Regions from separate parts of the Homo sapiens genome. Here region 2 is linked to region 1. The links come from fine-mapping of genetic effects on gene expression. A gene starts in region 1. The other region holds a variant in brackets. All regions are shown on one strand. Distances are from middle to middle. Region 1 holds the start of PRICKLE2-DT (PRICKLE2 divergent transcript). Region 2 has its middle 32 kb from the start of PRICKLE2-DT.

Region 1 (2,907 bases):
CATCTGAAGCAGGAACAAAAGCATTTAATTTCTGAAGGAGCTGGTTGGGAGTTTTCTTATAACTGGGTGCCCAGCACACATTACAAATGGGGAAAAGTAGAGATGCACTAATGCGGTGGGGGTGGGGGGCGGGGGGCGGGGTGTGGAATCAAAGCAGGCTTTTCTGCCTAGCATCCAGAAAAAGCCCTCTTCATAAGCAGCTTGAGTGGTGGAGAAAGGGGGAAAGATGCGCTAATCCAAGAGAGAATGTGTTATGATATTGCACAATTTTCTCCTGTCACCAGTTTTTCCTTTTTATGAAGACGCCAGGGAGGATTCACCTTTTGCTTGAAACCAGCAAACTGACAGCTTGTAAGCCTGCACCCCAACTTTTCCCAACCAGAGCCCCAGCAGCCAGATGCATTGGGAGGGCAACCAGCTCCCTTGTCTCCCAAACGTAATCATTCCAATCCAAGCTGGGGCTGCCTGGAAGTCAACACTCAAGGCACATTTAATAAGAAACATCTGGCCGCCGCAGAGGGTTGACACGGCCCAGGCGGGCAGCAATGGATTTGCGGTTGGGACCCAGAGTTACAGGCGCTGAATTAAAAACACAACTGGAAAACACCAGCTAGTCCAGGGAATCCTACACATACAGCACTGTGGCACTTGGCAACACTGCCTTGCCCAGGGTGAATTGTTTTGGAGTGAGTTACCTAGACACATAGTGCCCGTGCTAGGGATCCACAGTTCTCACATCAGTGAAACGCAGCCTTGAGCCCGGCTCTCCTGCATCTCCCAGTGTCTGGCCACCACTTCCACCTCCAATATTTGTAGCAGATGTAGCTCCGCTCTTAAAGAAACAGCCTTTGCATTCTTTCCATGTGACTTACAAGTGAGATTTAAGGCGGAGGGGAATATATATATATCTATAGATATATATATGTATGTATATTACATATTGCATATTTTATCTTGCTGTAGTGTTGTGCATTTACGGCTTCCTACCTCCATTTATGCAAGGCGAACCCAGGGCACTGGTCACCACAGGCGTTACATGGCTGGCCTCGCTCTATCCGCCCCAGTCCGGTCAACTTCAAAACAAAAAGACAACACACGCATGTCTCCACCACGGGGTCTCCCTCCACAGCCCCACTCGTGTCCCTGGCAGGATGGCCTGCCCCTCCCACCCCACCTCCTGTGATTTGAGCCAACTGCTCCTCTTCTGTATGGGGGACACGGGGCGGGGCACTGCCAGTGCCCCAGGGGTGGTCTCCCGCCTGCTTGGGGAAGGGTGCGCGGACCCAGGCAGGTTGCCTCCGGCATGGGCACTACACCACCACGAAATGACCACGGCTGGGGCTTTGTCTCCCCCAGACACCTTGGTCACGGGTTTCTAAGAAACAAAAGCAAGACCCTTCAGTTCCCTGGAGTCCGCAAGAAGCGAGCATCGGGCGCCCGCCCTAGACCGGGCTGGTGCTCCCGGAAAGGGGGCAGCAGAGGACACCCCAAAAGACGGCCCTAAAGTCCCCGCTAGAGCTCCAAGTGGCTGGACGCTGGAGCTTTGGTGCTGGGATTCCGATTTGCCCGGAGGGAGGGGGCTTTCCAGGGATCCCCCAGACTGTGACCCTGAGGGCCACGGTTCGGGTCTCACTGTCGCCCAGCCGGGGGGTCGGAACTTAACCCCTCCCGCGCCTTGGAGCGCTCTCTCGCGCCCTGGACGCGCCCCGCCCGCGGGGCCGGCTTACCTGGGGCCACAGGTGCGCAGCCGCGGGGCGCAGTGGGGCTGCGCGCGGGCGCTCGCGGCCGGCTGGAGGTGCCCGGCGATCGGCCCCGCTCGAGCGGGGGACACTCACCGAGCGGCTGGAGAGTCTTTTCCGGGAGCTCCGGCTGAACATGGCCGGACGCCTCCTGCTCGCAGCGCCGTCCGTCGGTCCGTCCGCGCCGCGGCCGGGAGGGCGGGTAGCCTGGGCGGGCACCCTCGGCGGCCGCTGGCCTGGCTGTCTCCGCCTTGCAGTCCCCGGCTCGCTCCGGAGCGCACGCCTACCCCTCCTCCCTTCCCTCTGCCTCTCCCTCCACGCCCGCAGGTCCCTCCCTCTCTCCCGGCATCCCCCCGCCCTCCCGGGTTCGCCCCGCGGTCCACCGGCTCTTCCCATCCCTCCCCCGCACCCGGCTGGGGCCACTTTCTCCCTTTCCCTGGCTTCTAGGCCCACTGGGCACAACTCCCGGCGCTTACCTGGTCCCGCCCCTGAAGGCTCGTCCCTCACCCTTGTCCCCAGCCTAGGGGCAGGGACCGTTTCACACCCCCCTGCCGCTGTAGCTGGGGTAGGGGAGTGGAGATGGAAGGATGAGGGTTGAGTTTGTTTAAGGTATAATCCACATACAGTAAATTCACCCTTTCTTAGTGCACAGTTCTGCCAGTTTTGACAAATTCGTACAGACCTGTAACCACCACCACAATCAAGCTATAGAACGGCGCTCTCACCCCCGAAAATGGATTATTTTAAAAGTTTGTACCATGCCTAGAATCTAGTGTTCATTAGGTGTTGGGAGAGGAAGAGAAAGTGGAGGAGGAGGAGGAATTATGCCCCTATGTAATTGTACAATGCCTGGAATATAGTAGATGCTCATTAAGTAAGTGTTGATTCATTGCATTCAAGCTTTGAAGCCATTGCGCCTTTAGTGCCTTTTTTCCCATTACCTTTTCCATCACTTCCTAGTTGGTGATCTCCCCAAATTAACCTCTTTGTGCCTCTGTCTCCTTATCGATAATAATTTTTTTAAATGATGTAACAAGAGTCCTTATCTCACACCATTGTTGAGAGAGCTGAGTTGGGGCATGTTTAGTTATTATAACAGGCACAAACTCAGGCTCATTAAAGATTAGCTGTCATGGCCTGGCATGGCTCACGCCTGTAATCCCAACAC
Region 2 (2,907 bases), 31 kb before region 1:
CCTCATAGCCTTCCTCCTGCATTAGATCCCATAACAGTGTTTTTGAGGAAGGTATCCTTGTCTTCATGTACAGGAGAAACAATAAGGATCAGCAAAGTTAAGCAACTTGTCCCAGCTTTTAAGGACCAGACAGAGCTGGGTTTGAATGCAGGTTCTGTAATTTATCAGCAGTGTGAGTGAAGTCAATACCGGGACTCTGAGACTCAGTTTTATTCTGTAAAATGGCAACCTACCTTGTAAAGCTGTTGTTAGCACTGAAGGGAAGGCATATGAATAAGCACCTACCACAGTAGGGACCACAAAGTAGGGGTCCAGCAAACATTCGTTCTCATCCCTTTCTTTTATGTTTGGTTATTTTCTTTTTTTCTTTGCCTAATGGGGAAATATTAGGCATACACTTGGCCAGTTGTCCTTACTCATTGCTAGGACTATTAAGGAAAGAGCTATTCAACCCTCCTCATTGCTACAATGTGCACCCGAATTTCATGACTCCAGCATAAAAACAAAGTCCCTACTAAGAGGATTATGCCCACCCAATCTAATTCTTCTGAGTGTCTTCTAATGTGTGGCACACGTATCGACGATGGGAGCACCATGTAGTGAAGCTGGTAATGTTTCTTGGTCCAGGCCCTGAGTGTTCGACCTGGGGAAAAATTTTCTTTTTGTATACTTATGATTTGTGTACTTTTACCTATGCATGTTGTATTTCAATACAAAATTTGTTAAAAGGATGTCCATGCTTGCACATCCCTTGGAAGAGTCTTCACTATATGTCATTGGGTCTCATACCCTAATCATATATTAATACTATGCCTTAAGGTACCACCTGCCCCCAATCTCAGCCCCTGCCTCTTCCAGCCTCCCATTCCTTCAGGTCCTTTCTTAGAGCTTGTCCTTAGGCTCCAACTTACGTCTCTCTCTTCCCATGACCCTTTATCTTGGCACCTCACCCCAGTTACAGAACCTGTGTTTCTCAACTTCTGCCCCTACCCTCTCTAATCTTTCATCCAGCTTGTCTTTCCCCAGCCTCAAACCCCGGATGTCCATGTACAGTCAGATGCCCCGGGTCCTGCCAGCCCTCCTTGTTCCCACCACCTCTTTCACCACAGGCACTATGCCCAGGCCCAGCTTTTCTACCTGGCTCAGGAATTCCCACTTCCTGCCCTTGGAGTTCAACCCTTTCTGCCTGAAACCATGGTCTTGCCTACTCTTAAACTTGTCTTTTTTTCCCTCTTACTATCCACTAGTTTCCTTTCTAAATTAAGCTCATCTTGATTTTTAAGGGCTAGTTTTAAAGAAAATGCTAAGTCAACAATCACTAATTTTGATAGCCAATGCTTGCTGAATGCTTATTACGTGTCACACACTGCTCTCAACACGGTTCGTGTATTGACTCACTCAGTCCTCCTAGCAACCCCCTAAGGAAGGTACTATTCCAATCCCTGCTTTGTAGATAAGGAAAGTGACACTGAGGCCTGGAGAGGTGAAACAACTTGCCCAAAAACACACAGGGGCTCAGGAGTAGATTTGGGCTAGAAACCTATGCAGTCTGAGCTCCGAGCCAGAGCTCCTAACAGAAGCACAACACAGAAGCTCCTCTCTGCAATAGGAAAGGTCCTTAGACATGGCCAGAGG[C/T]AAGGAGGGGGCCATGAGTGACTGGGCTTGGGAAGAAATGTTCTAAGCAATACAGTCTGGGAGGAAAAGATGGAGATGCCAGGCCTGGCCCCTTTCCAAATGGCACATAGTAGTTTTCTCTTGATGAGGAAGGTGTTCGCGGAGGGTTCTGGTGATGTCCTGGTTTTGCCTTCTCCCCTCTTTGAACACTGATTAGGAGGAGGATTGGCAAGAAAATGTTCACTATGCAGTGAAGAGAAGAGGAAGGGAATCCTTAGGGCATGCGTGTGTGTATTATGTGGTTGTTAGTAAACAGGAAGAATGGGTTGGTTATTGGAAAAGGTGGAAACACACGAATGTCCTTTGAGAAGCTCTGACTCACCTCTGGACATTCTCATTTTGACTGTACGAAAAGATTCAAAGAAATAGACGCTTCACAGAACACATGAGTAAGGAGGACAAATCTCCGACCAGAAAAATGCTTTTCTTTGTAAAAAGCAAAGTTTGATTTAAAAATAAAGACTACTCAGTAGTGTGGTTGAGAGAAGCCAAAACCTGCCTGTAATCCCAGCACTTTGGGAGGTCAAGGTGGGCAGATCACTTCAGCTCAGGAGTTCAAGACCAGTTTAGACAACATGGTGAAACCCCGTCTCCACTAAAAATACACAAATTAGCTGGGCATTGTAGTATGGAAGGCTGAGGTAGGAGGATGGATTGAGCCCGGAAGGTCAAGGCTGCAGTGAGCTGAGATAGCACCATTGCACTCCAGCCTGGGTGATAGAGTGAGACCCTGTCTCAAAAAAATAAAAATAATTTTTAAAAAAATCATGGAAAGCCAAGCGTGAAAAACAAATAATAACAAAAATAAAAAACATATATAAAAGAAAAGCCAAAACTATCCCAAAACCATCAGCTGTGTTCACAGACTTCTAAGGAGAGGCAACAAGAAAAATACCTGAGGCCACATCCTCCCACTCCCCACTCCCACCCCTGAACTCCTGTCAGCGTTCTTCATCTTTTCTGAACCTTAGATGCCTTTGGGCACCTGGTAAAGCCTGGAACACCTTCTCAAAGTAAAATGAGTGATTAAGATATATCAGATTATAGGGAAAATCAATTACATTAAAATATGTTTATTCAATTTTTTAAAAAATTTGATGTAGCAGAAGTCCTGGCTGGAGCAATCAGGGAAGAGAAAGAAATAAAAGGCATCCAAATGGGAAAAGAAGTCAAACTATCTGTCTTCACTGATGATGATTCTAAAATCCTAAAGACTCCATCAAAAGGCTCCTG

The links.
Region 2: its variant is fine-mapped to the expression of PRICKLE2-DT in nasal epithelium (TOPMed, PIP above 0.99).

The regions. Positions count from the first base shown.
Region 1 is chr3:64,443,496-64,446,402 of GRCh38, forward strand. It overlaps PRICKLE2-DT (PRICKLE2 divergent transcript), which reads left to right and starts at 1,762. Exons shown (of 4, transcript NR_183714.1): 1 at 1,762-1,912.
Region 2 is chr3:64,412,276-64,415,182 of GRCh38, forward strand. No RefSeq gene overlaps it. Among named protein-coding and RNA genes, the nearest start is that of PRICKLE2-DT, 32 kb to the right of the region's middle. The variant C/T (reference allele first, on the strand shown) is at 1,636.